Homo sapiens: one gene and its partners. The protein of the gene in region 5 interacts with the protein of the main gene of each other region in a pairwise test. Each region holds a gene or a part of one and is shown on either strand. Other genes may lie near its edges.

What was found.
Region 1: the proteins of MYBPC2 (region 5) and DYSF interact in a two-hybrid assay, tested with the Homo sapiens proteins (one large-scale study listed by BioGRID and IntAct).
Region 2: the proteins of MYBPC2 (region 5) and MYOM2 interact in a two-hybrid assay, tested with the Homo sapiens proteins (one large-scale study listed by BioGRID and IntAct).
Region 3: the proteins of MYBPC2 (region 5) and COL12A1 interact in a two-hybrid assay, tested with the Homo sapiens proteins (one large-scale study listed by BioGRID and IntAct).
Region 4: the proteins of MYBPC2 (region 5) and PCDH12 interact in a two-hybrid assay, tested with the Homo sapiens proteins (one large-scale study listed by BioGRID and IntAct).
Region 6: the proteins of MYBPC2 (region 5) and MYH8 interact in a two-hybrid assay, tested with the Homo sapiens proteins (one large-scale study listed by BioGRID and IntAct).

The regions. Positions count from the first base shown.
Region 1 is NC_000002.12:71,679,699-71,683,198, reverse strand, and holds part of DYSF (dysferlin), read right to left. Parts: intron 2,199-3,500; coding exon 2,089-2,198; intron 670-2,088; coding exon 522-669; intron 1-521. UniProt on the Homo sapiens protein: Key calcium ion sensor involved in the Ca(2+)-triggered synaptic vesicle-plasma membrane fusion.
Region 2 is NC_000008.11:2,048,046-2,051,545, forward strand, and holds part of MYOM2 (myomesin-2), read left to right. Parts: intron 1-2,709; 5' UTR 2,710-2,721; coding exon 2,722-2,828; intron 2,829-3,500. UniProt on the Homo sapiens protein: Major component of the vertebrate myofibrillar M band. Binds myosin, titin, and light meromyosin. This binding is dose dependent.
Region 3 is NC_000006.12:75,122,554-75,126,053, forward strand, and holds part of COL12A1 (collagen alpha-1(XII) chain long), read right to left. Parts: intron 2,721-3,500; coding exon 2,574-2,720; intron 1,819-2,573; coding exon 1,702-1,818; intron 1,542-1,701; coding exon 1,395-1,541; intron 852-1,394; coding exon 777-851; intron 1-776. UniProt on the Homo sapiens protein: Type XII collagen interacts with type I collagen-containing fibrils, the COL1 domain could be associated with the surface of the fibrils, and the COL2 and NC3 domains may be localized in the perifibrillar matrix.
Region 4 is NC_000005.10:141,955,403-141,959,453, reverse strand, and holds the start of PCDH12 (protocadherin-12 precursor), read left to right. Parts: upstream 1-1,251; 5' UTR 1,252-1,602; coding exon 1,603-4,051. UniProt on the Homo sapiens protein: Cellular adhesion molecule that may play an important role in cell-cell interactions at interendothelial junctions. Acts as a regulator of cell migration, probably via increasing cell-cell adhesion.
Region 5 is NC_000019.10:50,439,392-50,442,891, forward strand, and holds part of MYBPC2 (myosin-binding protein C, fast-type), read left to right. Parts: intron 1-1,488; coding exon 1,489-1,685; intron 1,686-2,789; coding exon 2,790-2,922; intron 2,923-3,500. UniProt on the Homo sapiens protein: Thick filament-associated protein located in the crossbridge region of vertebrate striated muscle a bands. In vitro it binds MHC, F-actin and native thin filaments, and modifies the activity of actin-activated myosin ATPase.
Region 6 is NC_000017.11:10,390,951-10,394,450, reverse strand, and holds part of MYH8 (myosin-8), read left to right. Parts: coding exon 1-202; intron 203-1,240; coding exon 1,241-1,366; intron 1,367-1,449; coding exon 1,450-1,620; intron 1,621-1,804; coding exon 1,805-1,909; intron 1,910-2,473; coding exon 2,474-2,569; intron 2,570-3,500. UniProt on the Homo sapiens protein: Muscle contraction.

The DNA of each region.
Region 1 (3,500 bases), on a different chromosome or scaffold from region 5:
GCCCACCTGCTGCAGGAGGCAGGACACACTCTATTGAGTGCCTCAGGTGGACCCTGAGATGCTCTCCCAGCCCCAGCTCCTCCCTTCCTCTGGATTTGCAACTGCTGTTAAGACAAAGGGACCTTCTCTGCTCTGCCATCAACATCTCACCTTCCTTTCAGACCCAGTTCCACACCTCCCTTCCAGAAAGTCCCCCTGCCCACCGCAACCCAAAGGGCCTCATCTTCTCCTAACCCCTTCATTACAAATTCTAGGGGCTTGCTGAGGACAGCTTTGTCTCACCATGAAGGGCAAGAACTCAGTTTCTCTCACTGGACTAAGAGCCTCCAAGGGTAGAACTTTGTACACCTACCAGATTGGAGACTCCCCAGAGCTGGGCTCTGTATCCTCATCAGACCAGGGGCTCTCCAAGGACAGAGGTTACTTCTCTCCATTAGACTGGGAGAGCTCTTTGAGGACAATGATGAACTCCCCCATTAGACCCAGAGTTCCCCCACCACAGTGTCGTCAGGCCTGCTCACCGGGAAGGCGTAGATGAAGATGGCCAGGAACAGCAGCAGGATGAAGAGGATGATGAAGAGGATGATGGCCCACCGGAAACGCCGCCACAGGATGAACTTCATGGTCTTGTATGGGGAGGTAAACCACAGGAAGGAGGTGTCGGGGCGCCTGGAAGCGAGATCCCGGAGGTCAACTGGGCATCCTTTACTAGGGCTGCTTTCTCCAAACTCTTCTCTCAACAGCAGGTCCAATGGCCTGGCCCTCCACAGTCCACCCCCAGCGCCTGCCCAGGCCCTGTCCCTAAACTAGCCCTTTGCACCTTGCATTCCCTCTCCCCCAAGCCCTTGCTACAGTATCACCCCCACCTGTGCTGCCCTCCTCTTCTGGGTGCTGCCAAGCCCTAAGCATCCTCAGTGGCCCAGTTTCTCTGCCATCCTCTCCAGGACACCTTCCTTGGTGCCCTCACCCATTCCTGACCCAGGACTTAATCACAAACTGCAGATTTAGGAGCTGGGCAGTGCTTCAAAGTGCTCTCCAGCCCACCGAGCCCCAGATAAGCCAAGACACCTGCCCAGATGCACATGGCTAGTCCATGCTCAGGGAACAACGGTGGGAAGAGAACATAGGAAGCTGGTTCTCTCACAACCAAGAATCTCAAAACCTTTCCCTAGGCCAGCTCCACATCTCAAAATACGTGGAGGATTCTGGGTCTCCATCATGGCCCCGTTAACATCAGATTGCACACTGGTGTCTCACGGGTCTCTCTTTTCTTCCTGTGCAGATCCCAGCATCCTTAGGCAAGGGTGCCTCTCACTGCTCTGCCAGCCCCATGGCACTCAGGCACACGGTGCTAATCACAGCATGGTGACTAACTGAGCCATCTATGCTAAATCCAACTTGAGCCAAGTAGGCTGGTGGGGCGGGATCCAGCAAACACATTCCTGAGCCCCCACAGCCATCTTTCAGTGACTCTGCCCCTGTAACTGCCTTCACAGCATCTACATCCATTGGCTTGGTCTATCTCCCCAAGAGGTCTGTGATGTAGGGAAGACAGGGATTGGGCTCCCCATTTCACAGATGGAAAAATGAAGGCTGAAAAACCATTTGAAAGTCACACTGGCACCATAGGAGAGCCACCGAAGGCAGCTTGGTAGGGTCAAGACCTTGATCGGGCTCTGGAGCCAATCAGACCAGGTGAGAGCATTTCTGCTTCACCACTGTCCTAGCTGGAATGCCCTTATTTAACTTTGCTGAGATTGTTCCTCATCTGTAAAATGGGGATAATAACAACTACCCTGCAGGGAAGGTTCCATAGCACAATGTACACATGCATAGGATAGCATGCTTGGCACACAACCAACAGGTACCCAATAGCACCTGCATCTTGAATTCGCTGAGCCCAGTGTTCTCTGGACAGATGCCCATCACCTTCCCCCTAACTTACTGTGTGGCCTTGGATGAGTCGTGCCCCTCTCTGAGCCACGTGGGCTTTGTGACTTCTACATGGCCATGCAATGGGATGCCTCCTGGACTGTGGCCTATACCCCCAGACCTGTGGGCATTGGGGCTCAGGGGCTGGGCACTGACCTTGGGTCCTCAAGCTTAGGGTTCATGTTGGGCTCATCCCGGCCCTGGCCAGCAGGCCGCTCCTCATGCTCACTCTCTGCTACAATCTCCAAGGTCATTTCCAGCTTGCCCTGAGGGGACAGAGAGCACTTGGTTAGGGGCACGAAGGCTCTGCTCAGTGGCCTGGAGAGTAACCAGGCCAGAAAAAACATAAGGGCCACTTCATTATTTAAAAAAAAAGATGTAGGGTTTCTGAACATAAAAGCAGCACCTGCTCTTTGTAAAACATTTGGAAACTTCAGAAATGTATAAAGAAGGGAGACTGCCACCCCTACTTCCACTACATGGAGACAAGCACTGTTAACATTTGCATGCATCATAGCTGATTTTCTCTGCAAGCTTATGAAATGTCACACTGTGCATATACAGTTCCATAGATGGCTTTTTTCACTTCGGAATATATTTCACTATGTAGTTGTCTATTCTTTAAAGTTCGGTTTTTAATGACTGCCAAACATTGTATGGGATGGTTGACCATAATTATTTAGTAAACTACTTATTTTGGTTCATTTAGGTTGTTTCCAACTCTTTGATAGGGTAAATAATGCTGCAACAAATATCCCAGAACCTAGACTTTTAAAATTTATTGGGTTATTTATTTAGAAGGATTTTAGAAGTCGGATGACAGAGTCCGAGGGCATAAATATTGTTAAATCTGTTACTATATGTTATCAAATTTCTTCCTCCACACAGTAAAACCATTAGTGCTCCCAGCAGAAGTAAAAGGGGGGCCTGTCTTCTCTCTGCATGCTCAGCAGCAATGAGCATTTCTGTTTTAAAAATATATATAATTTAACAGACAAAAAAAACACATTTAAAAATACAGTAGTCCTCCCTTATCTTTGGGTTTGATTTCTAGGGTTTCAGCTACCCGTGGGCAGTACAGTAAGATATTTTGACACACAGAGAGAAAGACCACATTCACCTAACTTTTATAACAATATATTGTTATAATTGTTCTATTATTAGTTATTGTTGTTAATCTCTTACTGTGCCTCATTTAGAAATTAAACTTTCTCATAGATATGTATAGATGGGAATAAACACAGTACATAATACGGGTTTAGTACTATCTGTAGTTTCAGGCATCCCCTGGGGGTCTTGGAACATATCTCCTCCAGATAAGGGGGGGACTACTGTATCCCTTTATTTAATTACTGGAGAGACTAAACCTTTTTAAAAATGCTTTGCAGACATTGGTAATTATTTTGTGAATTAGCTATGCATGTCGTTTTCTCATTTTTCCTTTGGGGTACTAGTATTTCTTATTGTTACCACTCTTTATATAACAAGTATATTCAATTTCAAGGACCACTTTCAGGGTTGGCTGGCTGCCTGAAATTTCTAAGTAAACTTTCAGGGATTAACTTCCT
Region 2 (3,500 bases), on a different chromosome or scaffold from region 5:
AGCTCATTCTCTCCTTTGACCTAATAGGTCACATTTTGACTCTTCCCTTTACCAAGAAATACAAACACATCTGAGGTTTAACTCAACATAAGTGTAAGTAGATACTGTGATGACACATGAGCCCCTGCTGCAATAGCAGGTACTGGGGATTGCTCATGCGTCTGCTGGAGTGGAATTGCCTGGTATTCGTCAGGCTGATCCCAGAAGAACCTTGGATAGGAAACCGGATGGAAGCTGAAACGTCTTCCCCAACCTTGGTCCAACTTCATTTCAGTGAGCTCTTCCCAGCACCCTGCTGGTGAACTCCAGAGAGAGTAAATGGGTTTCTGAGCAGGAAGCGTTTCTTGAAGATCCACCTTGATTAACTCATTGGAAAATCCCAGTGAGCTGCATCTGGGGAGATTTCAAATAGTGAAGCAATACATAGATTTTCTCAGATACCTTTTCCTGTCTGCAGAATTCTTGAACCATGATAACAGCAGCAGCATAACAGAGACAGCAACCGATTTCGGTACCAGGGCCAGGGCCAGGCATGATGCAGATTCAATATGGAACGCCAGAGCTAGAGGAGCTAGAAGCTACCCCAGGCCTCATCAGAATGCTGGAGTCAGAATTCGATCCCAGGTCTACCAGACATCAAAACCTGGGCGCTTGACCTCTGCACTATGATACTGCCTTCAATATCAGGGCGGGTGGAGGAGATATGCTTTTATTTATTTATTTATTTATTTTATTTTTTATTTTTATTTTATTTTTTTTTTTGAGATGGAGTCTCGCTCTGTCACCCAGGCTGGAATGCAGTGGCGCGATCTCGGCTCACTGCAAGCTCCGCCTCCCAGGTTCACGCCATTCTCCTGCCTCAGCCTCCCGAGTAGCTGGGACTACAGGGGACCCCCACCATTCTGGCTAATTTTTTGTATTTTTTTTAGTAGAGACGGGGTTTCACCATCTTAGCCAGGGTAGTCTCAATCTCCTGACCTCGTGATCCACCCGCCTTGGCCTCCCAAAGTGCTGGGTTTACAGGTGTGAGCTACTGCGCCCGGCTGCTTTTATTGTGTTCTATGAGGTGCAACGTTCCGTTATATCCCTGGAGTAGAATGCATGCTGGTGCACTCTAAAACACGGCTGGGCCCTCCCAGGGTGGGGTGGTTGGTCGACTAGTTGGGTTTTAAGAGGCAATATTGAGAGAGTTAGTGTGGCAGTGTGAAAGGCCCAGAATAAGGATGGCCTTGGGGCAGGGGTAGCCTCTTCTACATGCTTTTGGGGAAGAATTTCTCCTTTCTGGCCCTCGTGTCCTGTTTTCTTCCCTGTAGAATAGGAGTTTGGGTAATCGCTAGTGATCTTTCCAAGTTCTACAATACTGTGATTCTCGGAGATTACAGAGTTCAAAGGAAACAGCTCATAAGGAGCAATTTATGTACTGTGGTAGGTTTTCTAGCACGTACCCTGGAGATCTGAACTATGACAAATTCATCTCCGAGCAGCCCTTGGCATTTTCCACCCAAGTCTCATACCCATGGCCCGGGATGTGGGTGGCACCCCTGGGGCTGTGCCATGGGGCCTGGCCTAGGAGTTCTGTCTTTAAATAAGGACAGATCCTCGTCATTTAAACAGAAAAGTAAAAAATGGAGCTCAGGTTGTGAGTCCTTTTGCACCTTGTTTGGGAAATTAATGACTGCAGAGATTTAGGAATACGGTCCCTACGTAACTTTGCCGTGATGATCAAGTCACTCAGCACGTTGGCATTTTACGTGTTTTGGGTGAACATGTACAGCAGATTGCCATGTCTAATACCTGTAATGCTGCAAGTTCCCAGAGAAAAAGATGGAACTCGCTCATCTCCTGTTTGGGGAGAATTTCATCCACACTCTCGAATTTCCCCACATCCCTGAGGCTTTCATGCCAGGCTCTGTCCTCACTTTTCCTGCTCACCTCCTGCTACGCCTGTCTACCGTAACCAGTGAGACTTCAGACGGCAGATTCCAGGGGGCATCTCCAGCCAGTCCCTTTTTCCACATCCCCCTTTGCATGGTGGAGAGACTGCCCGTTCCCCAGGCAGACACCCGCCACCTCCGCTTGTGGCTGCGTCTTTCCAGAGTGATTTCTGGTCACACCCACCCCTGCAAGTCTCCCATGATCCTGGATTCTCCTGCCCGACCTTTGCTTATGGGCTGCCCTCCTTTCCCACCTCCGCCTGGCAGTCCCACCTGTCCACCGAGCCTCCTCTCAAATGTCACCTGCCTCGTGGGCCACTCGGCCGTCCTGGCCTCCTGCCATTCCCAGGACACCTTCTACCTGCCCCGGGCTCTTGGCTCTTATCGTATGTTCTCTTGTATTCTAAGTGTTTGTTTACTTCTCTAATCTGCTTTAATTATTTTTGTACTTCCCACTTATATTGCTTTGAACTTTGCCCTGAACACACCAGGGGTTCTAGGAATACTTGTTGAGTTCACAATGAAATGAAACAGCAGCCCAATCTTCCAACTGTTGTGGAAGAAAACAAAAAATAAAGTTGGGTCCCTGGGAAGTTAATAGGCTTCCTGACTGCTGGTCTAAGGTGATTTCTGGCCATGTAATCTTTCATTTTTTCCCTTCCCAAGGGGGTTTTATTAACTGGAGTTCATTTTCCCCTTTGGAATGATGCAGAAATGGCAGAGGCCTCATGATGCTTGCGAGGGAGCTCAGTGTTGTGTGTGACTCTCTTTGTAGGAGCACGCCAAGATGTCCCTTGTGACTGTCCCCTTCTACCAGAAGAGACATAGGCACTTCGACCAGTCCTACCGTAATATTCAAACACGGTACCTGCTGGACGAATATGCGTCAAAAAAGTAAGCTGACATTCGCTGATGAGACGCGCAGAGCTTTGATTATGGGGGTCTGACATTTAAAGGCTTTTCCAGTTCCGTCAGCCCTGGAGAGGCACTGGTTTGCAGGGAGTCAGAGAGCAGAGATGGCAGCCTCTCCCGTGCCCAGGTCCTGCCACGGAGCAGCACTCTGTGGAGCTGGCGTAGTGTTCTGGCAGGTCCTGCTGGCCGAGTTCAGCTCCTGATCGAGGTGGGGAGGCAGGAAGTCCTTTGTATGAGCTCGTTGATTTTACTGCTCATCACATGCCTTCCAGAACTAGGATCTAAAAAGCCACCCAAAATAAAAAGCAATGAGATTGAAACTGGTGGGAAAGGCTGTCGGTAGGAGAGAAGTTAATGGGTGGCAGAGTAAAGACAGAATGGGAGGCAATATTAGTGATTTGGCTACATCGATCATGGATGTGCCGAGATCAAGAATCCCTGCCTCTGGGGCTGGTGTGCACCTGCATCTTCCGGAAGCTTCTCGGGGATGGCCTCATACAGGATGGCAGCTCACGCCCCCATGGACACTGTTTGTGTAGCAGCAAATCTGCAATCTTAATGGGCTGATTGGAAGGCTGTGGTGAAGGGAGGGAGGGACCGCGGGCAGGCGTTCTGCAGCCCAGGTGCCTGCCTCATGTCACCCACACCCTATGT
Region 3 (3,500 bases), on a different chromosome or scaffold from region 5:
TTACTGAATTTCTTTCTGTATCTAATTTAAAGGAATCCATTATTATTTTACCCCACAATAATACACTTTTAATTTTTAATTTTACTTATATAATAGGTTTAACGAAGTTGTAACGTTCGACATCCTTCTAAGATAAAATAAAAATATCTGAAATGCTTTCTATTAAATGCTGGAAACAGCATATGAGAAAAGAATAATACAGTAGTTATTTAACTAAATTTAATTTGACAAAGTGCTAGAGAATTGCCCTCAAATGCTGAGAGATCAACCTTAATAAATCAGTATGTCGTTTCACCAGTTCACTGCAAGTTACAATTATCTTTCAAATTTTGGTGAATGGAAAATTTTTTAGCATTGTATAATCCAGGGAACTTCTCAGGTTGGACACCAGGAATTTTAAAGCCAACAGCCTCAGGGCTTCGGTCGCAAATATAGCCAAAAGGGTTCACAGCGCTTACTGATGCCAGCAGCTAGCAGAAAGAAATGTCCACCATGTAACTATGGACCATGGAAGACCTAAATCTGTAAAACTGAGGAAACAGACTTCCAGCTGAAGATCTGGAATAATTTATGACTGATTTTATTCACACCAAAATGTGCCCAGAGATGGAGAGAAACAAATTACTGGTTATCTTTTCTTTCAATCTAAAAACTCTTCAGCAGCAATAATAGATCAGAAATGTTCTATATTAATTGTAAATGATGCACATGCAGCGTAAATAAGAAGTCTGTAACTCCCTATCAGCTGAACGTATTGCCTATTTAGCTGTACTTACCATCCCGGGCTGGTGGAATGGTGGGAGGGGGAGGAGGTGTGGGTGGCTCTGTAGGGGCTTCTGTTGGTTTCACAGCTAAAATTTAAAAATAATAATTATAAAAACACACCATGTGCACATTTGATATCCCAGAAAGTAAATTTTAAGAGCAATTTAAATCCTGGATACCAAATCAAGTCGTACAAAATGAGACACCATTGTCATCGGTACTGACATGCTGGGGATTTTATTCCATCCAAATTGATGTCACTGGTAGTCATTCAACATCCACTACAGCTACAGAAAATAAAGATCTAAAGGGAAAATGTAAGGCCTTCAGATAGGGTCAAATGAGTAAAAGTCACTAATATGAATTCACCTTCTCAGCGAGAGCCATCTCTCCCTCCTTTAGCCCTTCCTCAAAGTAGCACCAACTCAATAACAGGGACAACTTGCAAATTGCTACAGAAAAAGGTCCTGAACCAGCTTTAGACTCCACATTCAGGAATCTGCCATCATCCCATCATTATTGCTACCCCTACGGAGAGGTACCTGCACAGGATTCACTTAAGTCTTCCTTACCTAGAGCATTCTATTCTAAAGCCTTATGAAAGCTTTCCAGATTCCTCAAAAACTTACTGGTATGTTCTTTAACAGAGACTCCTGGTCCCTCGAGATTTGGTGTCTGCACAAAAACAGTGACACCATAATCAGTGTCTGGTGAAAGGCCAGTGAAGCAGTGACTGGTTTCTGATCCACGCACTGTAATTTCTTGTCCCCTTGTTCCTGATTATGACAACAAAGGAAAATGCCAGTGTCATCACCAATTATATTTCAAGAAAATTTTATATCGCATTGTTATAAACAAAATGGCATCTTCTTTACTGAAATTTAAAATGTTTCCACTACATGCTCCAGATCATTTTTTTCTTTTTTACACACATACCATCTGCAGGGCTTAGTTTTAGCCTGTAGGAGGTGGCTGCCCGGTGAGGTGACCATTTGACACAGAATGTATCCCACCCAATCTGGTAAGTTTTCAGATCTGTTACATTTAAATATACTACAAAATAAAGAAAGAAAGAGATTTACTTTGTAAATTGAGGCAAAAAGTGTACTTTTAATCATAACACAATTTTCAAACTTTCACTGTGGCTAAAAAAAAGTTCAAAATTGTATTATGTTTCCTTATAAGAAACATACATGAATCATATTTAAAAATGTGGTACTGCCAAAATAGACCCCCCTTTCTTTCGCTGATTTTCAAGGAAAGGAAATTCCATATAGTCCCTCTCAAAACTAAGAATTTCAAAAACATCTCATGGAAAATAATGAAAACAATTTCTAAAAGGCTATCTGCTAAGTCGTTAAATAGTTATCAAAGCAATGGTGACCTTAAAATATATCTGTGGACTGAATCACACTAATCATGATTCAATAATTAAGTCAAATTAAATCAATGAATTTAGGTAATATATATCTTGGTATCAAATGTCAAGAAGAACTAAGTAGCATCACAGATCTAATTTTACAGGTCATTCATGGATAAAATGACAATTTCTATAATTTTTATCTTTTAAAATTCAAAGTATAATATTTTATGTGAAATACACAAATTTCTCACCATATATATTTTTATATACTCAATTATAATATTTATGTATTTGAATAGGTATTTTGTCTAACCAGACACAAAATAGCCTGCCTACATAATGCTGAGGAAACATGTATATGTTCAGAAACAGGAAATTAAAACAGGCTGACCTGGTAATTTCTACTACAGTTTTTCTCACAACCATGAAAATATCCATGACTCACATGTAGTGCCTTGATCTGTCAAGGGGACACTGAGTCCAGAATCATATTGAGCATAAACATTCACATCGTAGGTGGTGCTGGGATTGAGATTGTGTAAGGTATATGATGTCATTTCTCCAACAAAGGCTTCCATGGGCTCATTGGAACCTTTATTAACAACCACAAAAATACACAGAAACATGCCATCAATAGCATGAAATTTTGCTTAAAATTAAAGATCTTATAGTCAAAGGGTATTATGAACACGATTAATTCCATAGTCCTCATACACTTACTCACTGGGGCACATGCTATGTTATATGACAAATATGAAACTGTAAGCAGACACTGAATCCTTCACCCTCCTATTCTCAAAGCATAGCACAGTATTTGGAATATAGTAGGTATATAATCAATGTTTCTTTAGTGAATGAATTCTCAAGCTTCTTTCTCAAGCCCTATTTTGCCAACATAGTGTTTTGCATATAGTAGGTGTCCAACTGACACTTTTTCATTTATTGTAGAGATAATTTAAGAATTTCTATCTTGGACCTCATTCCACATACTTTGGCTGCTAAACTCCTTAGTTACCAACCCCACTTTCTTTTTTAAGTTCTCTTTCTATTTCTTACATAGGTTCAAATTTTACTTCCTTTATCTTGCCATCTCTCTTTCATGTTTTTTCTAGTTCATACTCTTACTGGATATATGGAAGATGCCCTAAGAAATCTGCATTTTTCTTCCAGTTTCTCTAAGAATACAGACAAAATATTAAAACAAAAATAACAAATAATTTAATCAAGGTGATACTAATTTAGGTGAAATTTTCAGAGGGGATTTGAAAGCAAGGCTGTCATGAATAAGCTGCATGGAATCTATGCCCAAAATAAAATAATACCTGGGCATAGTGGGAAAAATACATAGGTATATTGATGTAATATGCATTAT
Region 4 (4,051 bases), on a different chromosome or scaffold from region 5:
GAGAATGTTGGGGGCAGCAAACTGAAGGGCACAATAAGAAGCAATAAGGCCACCTCAAAGCCCACCCAAGCAAACTGCTCATTCACCTCCTTCCTTCCTGAATTTCACCTTATGAGGAGGTGAGTGGAAGATAGGGTATCCCTTAAAACATCTAAAAGGAGAGTTGGGGGCAGCAAAGGAGATGTGCTTCACGGGACTCTTATAAACAAAACTGGGGAGAGAAGAATTGGAGGAAGGGGGAAAGACATAGATGAAAGGGAGGGGAAGGTGTGGGAGAGGGAAACGTATAAAAGCTTCCAAGAGGAGTGGGAGGCTGGGGGTTCCCCAGACAGAGACTCAGTCTGGACCAGATGCAGAGAACAATGGACTTCAAGGCTGGAGGGGGGCAGAAGGGAAGCGGGAGGAGAGCCACACGGTCAAGTTGCACAGGTTCTTGCAGCTTCTGGAATCAAGACCATGGGCACCCTCATAAGTCAGTGTGGGCAGGGACTGCCCCAGGGCCAATCCAAGATCCAGAGGTAGCCATAGGGTGTGACAAGTTGTGCAGATTACAACACTCACCCCTTGCAATAACGTCACTGCCTGTGACTCGGGGCCAGGCCCAGGCCAAAGCCCTTCCTACATCATTTCGTTTAATCCTCACAGTTTCCTGCTGAAAGGGCTACTATTCTTACTCCCATCCCCACTCTACAGATGAGGTAATGGAGGCCCAGGAAAGTTAAGTGACTTGTCCCAGATGACACCGCTGGTAAGTTGCAAAGTCAGAATTTGAACTCAGGCAGTTTACCTCTGATGGCTGCTCTGTTAATCACAGCTGCTTTCCAGTGAGACAAAAACGGGTGATCAGGGCAGAGTCAAGACAGAGAGGTAAACAAGATTGGGAAAAAGACAGGAATGAGAGGGGAACAATGGGGGAAAAGATAGGAACAAAGAGAGTTGGGGAAGGGGAGAGAAACAGGAAACATGACTTGCCCGGGAGGGGCATCAGTCCACGTGCAAGCAGGTGGAGGCTCAAGTTTTCTGCTCACTTGGTGATGCAGAGGCTCCCTTTCCCTCAGCAGCCGCCTTGCTGCGTGGACAGCAGCTTCCCATCTGGCCTGTCCCCGGAGCCCCGGCCTCATCCTCCTCAGCGGCAGGCCACTTAGCTTCACAGGAAATGCTCTTTCTCTAATTGGCATTGAAACTCACAGCCCTCCCTTTTCCTGTAGGTGGGGTTTCCATAGGAAAAAGCTGCTTCTCTGTTTCCCCAGCCTAGCAACTGTTTGGCAGTCAGAGTCCCACATCCTGCTCAACTGGGTCAGGTCCCTCTTAGACCAGCTCTTGTCCATCATTTGCTGAAGTGGACCAACTAGTTCCCCAGTAGGGGGTCTCCCCTGGCAATTCTTGATCGGCGTTTGGACATCTCAGATCGCTTCCAATGAAGATGGCCTTGCCTTGGGGTCCTGCTTGTTTCATAATCATCTAACTATGGGACAAGGTTGTGCCGGCAGCTCTGGGGGAAGGAGCACGGGGCTGATCAAGCCATCCAGGAAACACTGGAGGACTTGTCCAGCCTTGAAAGAACTCTAGTGGTTTCTGAATCTAGCCCACTTGGCGGTAAGCATGATGCAACTTCTGCAACTTCTGCTGGGGCTTTTGGGGCCAGGTGGCTACTTATTTCTTTTAGGGGATTGTCAGGAGGTGACCACTCTCACGGTGAAATACCAAGTGTCAGAGGAAGTGCCATCTGGTACAGTGATCGGGAAGCTGTCCCAGGAACTGGGCCGGGAGGAGAGGCGGAGGCAAGCTGGGGCTGCCTTCCAGGTGTTGCAGCTGCCTCAGGCGCTCCCCATTCAGGTGGACTCTGAGGAAGGCTTGCTCAGCACAGGCAGGCGGCTGGATCGAGAGCAGCTGTGCCGACAGTGGGATCCCTGCCTGGTTTCCTTTGATGTGCTTGCCACAGGGGATTTGGCTCTGATCCATGTGGAGATCCAAGTGCTGGACATCAATGACCACCAGCCACGGTTTCCCAAAGGCGAGCAGGAGCTGGAAATCTCTGAGAGCGCCTCTCTGCGAACCCGGATCCCCCTGGACAGAGCTCTTGACCCAGACACAGGCCCTAACACCCTGCACACCTACACTCTGTCTCCCAGTGAGCACTTTGCCTTGGATGTCATTGTGGGCCCTGATGAGACCAAACATGCAGAACTCATAGTGGTGAAGGAGCTGGACAGGGAAATCCATTCATTTTTTGATCTGGTGTTAACTGCCTATGACAATGGGAACCCCCCCAAGTCAGGTACCAGCTTGGTCAAGGTCAACGTCTTGGACTCCAATGACAATAGCCCTGCGTTTGCTGAGAGTTCACTGGCACTGGAAATCCAAGAAGATGCTGCACCTGGTACGCTTCTCATAAAACTGACCGCCACAGACCCTGACCAAGGCCCCAATGGGGAGGTGGAGTTCTTCCTCAGTAAGCACATGCCTCCAGAGGTGCTGGACACCTTCAGTATTGATGCCAAGACAGGCCAGGTCATTCTGCGTCGACCTCTAGACTATGAAAAGAACCCTGCCTACGAGGTGGATGTTCAGGCAAGGGACCTGGGTCCCAATCCTATCCCAGCCCATTGCAAAGTTCTCATCAAGGTTCTGGATGTCAATGACAACATCCCAAGCATCCACGTCACATGGGCCTCCCAGCCATCACTGGTGTCAGAAGCTCTTCCCAAGGACAGTTTTATTGCTCTTGTCATGGCAGATGACTTGGATTCAGGACACAATGGTTTGGTCCACTGCTGGCTGAGCCAAGAGCTGGGCCACTTCAGGCTGAAAAGAACTAATGGCAACACATACATGTTGCTAACCAATGCCACACTGGACAGAGAGCAGTGGCCCAAATATACCCTCACTCTGTTAGCCCAAGACCAAGGACTCCAGCCCTTATCAGCCAAGAAACAGCTCAGCATTCAGATCAGTGACATCAACGACAATGCACCTGTGTTTGAGAAAAGCAGGTATGAAGTCTCCACGCGGGAAAACAACTTACCCTCTCTTCACCTCATTACCATCAAGGCTCATGATGCAGACTTGGGCATTAATGGAAAAGTCTCATACCGCATCCAGGACTCCCCAGTTGCTCACTTAGTAGCTATTGACTCCAACACAGGAGAGGTCACTGCTCAGAGGTCACTGAACTATGAAGAGATGGCCGGCTTTGAGTTCCAGGTGATCGCAGAGGACAGCGGGCAACCCATGCTTGCATCCAGTGTCTCTGTGTGGGTCAGCCTCTTGGATGCCAATGATAATGCCCCAGAGGTGGTCCAGCCTGTGCTCAGCGATGGAAAAGCCAGCCTCTCCGTGCTTGTGAATGCCTCCACAGGCCACCTGCTGGTGCCCATCGAGACTCCCAATGGCTTGGGCCCAGCGGGCACTGACACACCTCCACTGGCCACTCACAGCTCCCGGCCATTCCTTTTGACAACCATTGTGGCAAGAGATGCAGACTCGGGGGCAAATGGAGAGCCCCTCTACAGCATCCGCAGTGGAAATGAAGCCCACCTCTTCATCCTCAACCCTCATACGGGGCAGCTGTTCGTCAATGTCACCAATGCCAGCAGCCTCATTGGGAGTGAGTGGGAGCTGGAGATAGTAGTAGAGGACCAGGGAAGCCCCCCCTTACAGACCCGAGCCCTGTTGAGGGTCATGTTTGTCACCAGTGTGGACCACCTGAGGGACTCAGCCCGCAAGCCTGGGGCCTTGAGCATGTCGATGCTGACGGTGATCTGCCTGGCTGTACTGTTGGGCATCTTCGGGTTGATCCTGGCTTTGTTCATGTCCATCTGCCGGACAGAAAAGAAGGACAACAGGGCCTACAACTGTCGGGAGGCCGAGTCCACCTACCGCCAGCAGCCCAAGAGGCCCCAGAAACACATTCAGAAGGCAGACATCCACCTCGTGCCTGTGCTCAGGGGTCAGGCAGGTGAGCCTTGTGAAGTCGGGCAGTCCCACAAAGATGTGGACAAGGAGGCGATGATGGAAGCAGGCTGGGACCCCTGCCTGCAGGCCCCCTTCC
Region 5 (3,500 bases):
ATATTCATGTCCCCACATTCACCTCCACATCTATCCTCTCTTTGTTCCTTTCCCTTCCTTCCTTCCCTCCCAAGCTCCATCCATGCATTCACTCACTCTCTCACCCATCAACCATCTTCTGAGGCCTCCCGTCTACTAGGTCCTGGGCTGAGATCCATGCATTCACTCACTCTCTCACCCATCAACCATCTTCTGAGGCCTCCCGTCTACTAGGTCCTGGGCTGAGATCCATGCATTCACTCACTCTCTCACCCATCAACCATCTTCTGAGGCCTCCCGTCTACTAGGTCCTGGGCTGAGATCCAGGGAGAGAGAACAGTCTGACTGGGTCCCTGATGTGAGATCACTCATTGCCTTGGGAAATGGGTCTTGTCCAACAGACATAGATACAGACTGAGACTATTTGGTGTGATTTTAGAGAGGGTCCCACCGGGGCCTGTGAGAGCCCAGAGCACGAGCAACTCACTGTCTTGTAGGACACGGAATGCCTCAGGGAGAAGGGAACTTTGGTGCTAGGTCTTGTAGGATGAAGAGGAGTCTGGGAGGAAGAGAAGGTAGGGAGAGGTCATGAAGGTAGGGAAACATTTTGTGCAAAGGCTGGGAAGCAGGAGAGAGCCTGAAGTGTTCAGCAAAAGTCAAGCAGCTTGGTTCAGGTGACTTTGGGGGGAGTGACGGAAGTAGCTGGGGTGTGATGGCCAGGCGGAGGGCTGGGGCTTCCTCCTGAGGGCAGTGGGGAGCCACAGAAGAGTTCTGAACATGAAAGGGAGAACCACTGATGTGGGTGTCAGAAATACCCCACAGGATAAAAGAGGACAAATAGGGTGCAATGTATGCTGCTTGGGTGATGGGTGTACCAAAATCTCACAAATCACTACCAAACAGCTTACTCATGTAACCAAACACCACCTGTTTCCCAATAACCTGTGGAAATAAAATAAATAAATAAATAAATAAATAAATAAATAAATAAATGAAAAGAAATACTCTGCGGACCAGGCATGGTGGCTCACACCTGTAATCCCAGCACTTTGGGAGGCTGAGGCGGGTGGATCACTTAAGGTCAGGAATTCGAGACCAGCCTGTCCAACATGGCAAAACCCTGTTTCTACTAAAATACAAAAATTAGCCAGGGGTGGTGGCGTGAGCCTGTAGTCCCAGCTACTCGGGAGGCTGAGGCAGAAGAATCGCCTGAACCCAGGAGGTGGAGGTTGTAGTGAGCCGAGATCACGCCACTGCACTCCAGCCTGGGAGACAGAGTGAGAATCTGTCTCAAAAAAAAAAAAAACCAAAAAACCCAGTGGGGACTGTGCTGGGAAGAGGTCAGAAGACCCCAGGAGGAGGCTGGGGCAATGGACCAGGCGGGAAACAATAAGACCCCTAAAGGGAAGGTGGCTTGGGTGAGTCACAGAGCCAATGAGTGAAGAAGGCAGAGGGACATCCTCCCTTCCTCACTCCCTGATGGCCCCTGTCCGTTCCCCCACCCGCCAGGGAGGTGGTGGAGGAGGAGAAGAAGAAGAAAAAGAAAGATGACGATGACCTAGGCATCCCCCCGGAGATTTGGGAGCTCCTGAAAGGGGCAAAGAAGAGCGAGTACGAGAAAATCGCCTTCCAGTATGGCATCACCGACCTCCGGGGCATGCTGAAGCGGCTGAAAAAGGCTAAGGTCGAGGTCAAGAAGAGTGCAGGTCAGCCCTGGTCTGGGGGGAGCTGGGCCCTGCACACAAGGGACCCCTAGCCTTGTGGGTGTCTAATGATTGGACCCTGGACCTATCTTTTCGAGGTCCCAATGAGGTAGGAGGCAAGACCCAACTCTAGCGGTGGGCCTCGGACACCAGACCAAATTGAGGACTAGCTAAAACAGGGACAGGGTGGAAGCAGCTTTCCATAAGACATGCCCACCAGTGTGCCATGTCAGTTTACCATGGCCATGGCAACAGCCAGGAGTTACTGCCCCTTTCCATGGCAATGACCAGACCACCCAAAAGTTACCACCCTTTTCCTAGCAATTTCTGTATAACCTGCTCCTTAATCTCTAGGTAATTAAAAGTGGGTATCAATCTGACTGCAGATCTGCCCTGAGCCGTTGCTCTCTGTCTCTGGGGTAGCCCTGTTCCGCAGGAGCAGTCAGAGGGCTGTAACACTGCCACCTCAATAAAGCTGTTTTCAGGCTGGGTGCAGTGGCTCACGCCTGTAATCTCAGCACTTTGGGAGGCTGAGGTGCGCAGATCACCTGACGTCAGGAGTTCGAGACCAGCCTGGCTAACATGGTGAAACCCCATCTCTACTAAAAATACAAAAGTCAGCCGGGCATGGTGGTGTGCACCTGTAATCCCAGCAACTTGGGAGGCTGAGGCAGGAGAATCGCTTAAGCCAGGGAGGCAGAGGTTGTGGTGAGCTGAGATTACGCTGTGGCACTCCAGCCTGGGGAACAGAGTGAGACTCTGTCTCAAAAAAATAAAATAAAATAAAAAATAAAATAAAATAAAATAAAATAAAATAAATAAATAAAAATAAAGCTGTTTTCTTCTACCTAACACTGGCTTGCCCTTGACTTCTTTCCTGGGTGAAGCCGATAACCCTTGCAGGCTAAGCCCCACTTTGGGGTCCCCTGCCCTGCATCACCACCAGAGAAGTTCTCAAGGATCTCTAAGTTCATAGGAGGCCCCCTGACTTCCTCACTTTGACCTTGGAGAGCCCAGGGCCTGGGGAGGGAGATGTGGTGCCTCTGGGGATGACCAGGGGAATGAGGACCACACGCCTCCATCCCCTTTGCATGCCTCAATCTTCAGCATTCACAAAGAAGCTGGATCCAGCCTACCAAGTGGACAGAGGCAACAAGATCAAGTTGATGGTAGAGATCAGCGACCCAGACCTGACCCTCAAGTGGTTCAAGAACGGCCAGGAGATCAAACCAAGCAGCAAGTATGTGTGGGGTGGGCAGTCCCTGCACCGGGGAGATCCCCGTCCAGAGAGAACGCCCGGAGACAAGGCCTATCACTCTTAACCAGAAAGGGCATATTCACCCCTATATGAAGAGTACAGGCCGGGCACAGTGGCTCACGCCTGTAATCCTAGCACTTTGGGAGGCCGAGGCGGGTGGATCACCTAAGGTCAGGGGTTCGAGACCAGCCTGGCTAACATGGTGAAACCCCATTTCTACTAAAAATACAAAAAATTAGCCGGGTGTGGTGGCACATGTCTGTAGTGCCTGTAATCCCAGCTACTTGGGAGGCTGAGGCAGGAGGATCGCTTGAACCCAGGAGGCAAGAGGTTGCGGTTGCGGTGAGCTGAGATCTCGCCACTGCACTCCAGCCTGGGCGACAGAGTGAGACCCTGTTAACAACAACAACAACAAACACATCACAAGACAACCTTTTTTAAATTAATTACCTAATTTTGTTTTGAGACAGAGTTTCGCTCTTGTTGCCCAGGCTGGAGTGCAATGGCATGATCTCAGTTCACTGCAACCTCTGCCTCCCAGGTTCAAGAGATTCTCCTGC
Region 6 (3,500 bases), on a different chromosome or scaffold from region 5:
AACCCAGCTCCACCTGGATGATGCTCTCCGGGGCCAGGAGGACCTCAAGGAACAGCTGGCAATTGTGGAGCGCAGAGCCAACCTGCTGCAGGCTGAGATCGAGGAGCTGTGGGCCACTCTGGAACAGACAGAGAGAAGCAGGAAAATCGCCGAACAGGAGCTCCTGGATGCCAGTGAGCGTGTCCAGCTCCTCCACACCCAGGTGAGACCCTCACATCAAACAAATGCTGGTGTACTGGTAGCTGATGCATTCGAATTATAACATGAAAGTACTCAATTTGTATAAATATGTGTATGTAAACATGGATGGGGGATATGCTCAAAAATACTCATTGCTATTATCTTAGGGTAATTGGTGGATTATGGGTGATTTTTTTTTGTTTTTTTGGTGTGTGTTCCTGTTTCTTTCTTGGGGTTTCTACCCCTCACCAAAAAAAAAAAAAAAAAAAAAAAAAAAAAGCTATTACTTTTTTATTTAAAAATAAGATTTGGCTATTTAGATTATTTTGGAAACCATGAGGTAGAATACTATTGAGTAAAGATACCTGTTGCCTCCAAAATCTGAAAATGTTCCATGCAGTGTTTCTCATTGGTAGCACTTAAGCATTTAGCACTGCTGTGTTCACTGTCCCCATGCCTTACAGCTCATTTAGCATTCCTAACCTGCCCAGGCATTAAATGCAGTAGCACCCCCTAGTCATTTTGACAACCAAAAATATCTGCCCCTAAACATTTTCAAATACCTGTTGAGACGATATTGCTTCTCTCTAGAAACACTGAGTTGAAATCTTAAGAACATGTTTTCATAAGACAAATTCAGTGCTCTCCGACAGAACAAATCATAAAAATTCAGAGAGAATAGATTCTTTCAAAGCAAGAAACTCTCAGTGCCTGCCACTCACAAAACGAATCTATTCTTTTCTATTTCCAACCTTCCAGAGATAGAATAACTAGTGATGTCTGACTGAAATATAATTAAAAGAACAATTAACTAATGTATGCCAATAAAGGCATTCTCAAACCTCAGAAGTCCTTATGCATAAATCAGGTGGACACTGGGGAAGTTGGGGGAAAGGAGTTCCTACCTTGCAAATAATTAACATTTTCCACTGAACAAATAATTAAAGTTTAGTGAAATGTTGCCAGCAGATCCCCTGCACGAACCAACAAGTAAGACACTTGTAAAATCCCAAGAGGGCAAACTGCAAATTTTGTAAATTTCCACGACTACTTTTAACAGAATACCAGTCTCATTAACACCAAGAAGAAATTAGAAAATGACGTTTCCCAACTCCAAAGTGAAGTGGAAGAAGTAATCCAAGAATCACGCAATGCAGAAGAGAAAGCCAAGAAGGCCATCACTGATGTAAGATGAACATTTGGCCTACTGACACGTATGCACCTGCTATCATCAAGTTTCATTACTTTCTTAATTTATTTCCTAAATAGGCTGCCATGATGGCTGAGGAGCTGAAGAAGGAACAGGACACCAGCGCCCACCTGGAGCGGATGAAGAAGAACCTGGAGCAGACGGTGAAGGACCTGCAGCATCGTCTAGATGAGGCCGAGCAGCTGGCGCTGAAGGGTGGGAAGAAGCAGATCCAGAAACTGGAGGCCAGGGTGGGTGTCTCAATCTCTCTAAATCTGGGAAGGGAAAAAGGGCACTCTCTCTACCCTTCTCTCTTCCTACACAAGACTCCCATCCTGTCCTGGGGCTGGGAACACCCACCCCATGCCTTCAGTAGGTCTTGGGCTAATTAATATCCCCCAAGACTGACTGCGTAAGTATTTTTCTTGGCTGCAGGTACGTGAGCTTGAAGGAGAGGTTGAAAATGAACAGAAACGTAATGCAGAGGCTGTTAAAGGTTTACGGAAACATGAGCGACGAGTAAAAGAACTCACCTACCAGGTAAAGGGAATAGCCTTCCAGAATATCCACTCTTCCTGCCCAGAAGGAAATTGAAAACCTTATGACTATTTATTTATATGCCACTCACAAACAAATACGCATTAACTTGGTACATGTAAGGAGTAAAGACAGTTGCTTATCACAGACCTATACTAAAACTTAGGGAGGCCTTCAGATTTCTAAAGTTTAGAAAATAGCATGACAGTAAAGAACACAGATTTTAAAGGCAGATTAACTGGGTATTAGTCCTAGTTTGGCCTCTCTTGCTTCTTGAACTTAACACTCTAAACCTCAGTTTCTTCACCTGTAAAATAGAGATAACAGTGTCTATTTTCCCGGATGGGGAGGTAAGGACTGGAGAGGATGTGTGCAATTCTCTAATACAGTACCTGCACAGTGGAAACATTTACCAAGAGTGCTACTGTTAATTCTATGAAGAAAATCTCAGAGTTGATCAAGTTTACCCCAGGCCCACCTGCCATCATGCCAAATGATTTTATTTTAGTACCCAGAGTAGCCTTATCTCTTCGGAATGAATGCAGATTATTTTTTTCAAACTTTCAGACTGAAGAAGATCGCAAGAATGTTCTCAGGCTGCAGGACTTGGTAGATAAATTACAGGCGAAGGTGAAATCATACAAGAGACAAGCTGAGGAGGCTGTAAGTATCTTTAAGCCCTTGAGGAAAGAAGGAAATTTCTTTTGCAGTAGAAAGTGTTTTAAGAGAATGCGTCAATAAGGAAGAAGACAAAGTGAAAATCTACCACTCATTTTAAGAGGGATGATTTTATAAATATGAATTTGTCCCGCCAAATCCAAATTACAGAATAAGACTTCAAAAGATTTATTTATTTATTTATTTTGACACAGAGCCTCGCTGTGTCACCCAGGTTGGAGTGCAGTGGTGTGATCTTGGCTCACTGCAACCTCTGCCTCCCAAGCTCAAGTGATTCTTATGCCTCAGCCTCTCCAGTAGCTGGGACAACAGGCATGCACCACCACACCTGGCTGGTTTTTGTATTTTTAGTACAGACAGGGCTTCACCGTGTTGGCCAGGCTGGTCTCAAACTCCTGGCCTCAAGTGATCCACCCACCTCGGCCTCCCAAAGTGCTGGGATTACAGGCATGAGCCACCACGCCCAGCCGAGATATTTTTATTATTAAGCAATTTGTAAGGGTTGAGGGGGGCAAGTTCTAAACAGCTCACTTACTTGATAGCTACAAATGATATACAGTAGAAATTCTAATTAATACCATCATAAATATTCCTCTCCCTCTAGACATAGAAAAAATCAAGTTCTCAAAAGCCAAACATCAATCTTTTACCCCACCTGACTTCTTCACTCACCACTAGTGTCATCAGTGGGGGCTCTTGCCCCCACATTTGCTGTAGCTAATATAAGAACATGTTAGAAGATTCTGTACCTATACCCTTCCTGGTTATCCCTCCACTCTTCCAGACACATGTGATAGGTAGGAAGTAAATAGGAAGAAAAGGAAAGAAAAAAGGGAGAGGCATAAATGGCAATGAGTCAATTAACAGAGGAGACTTTCTGTCTAGTCCCATCTTTTCCCTTTCTTTATATACTAGA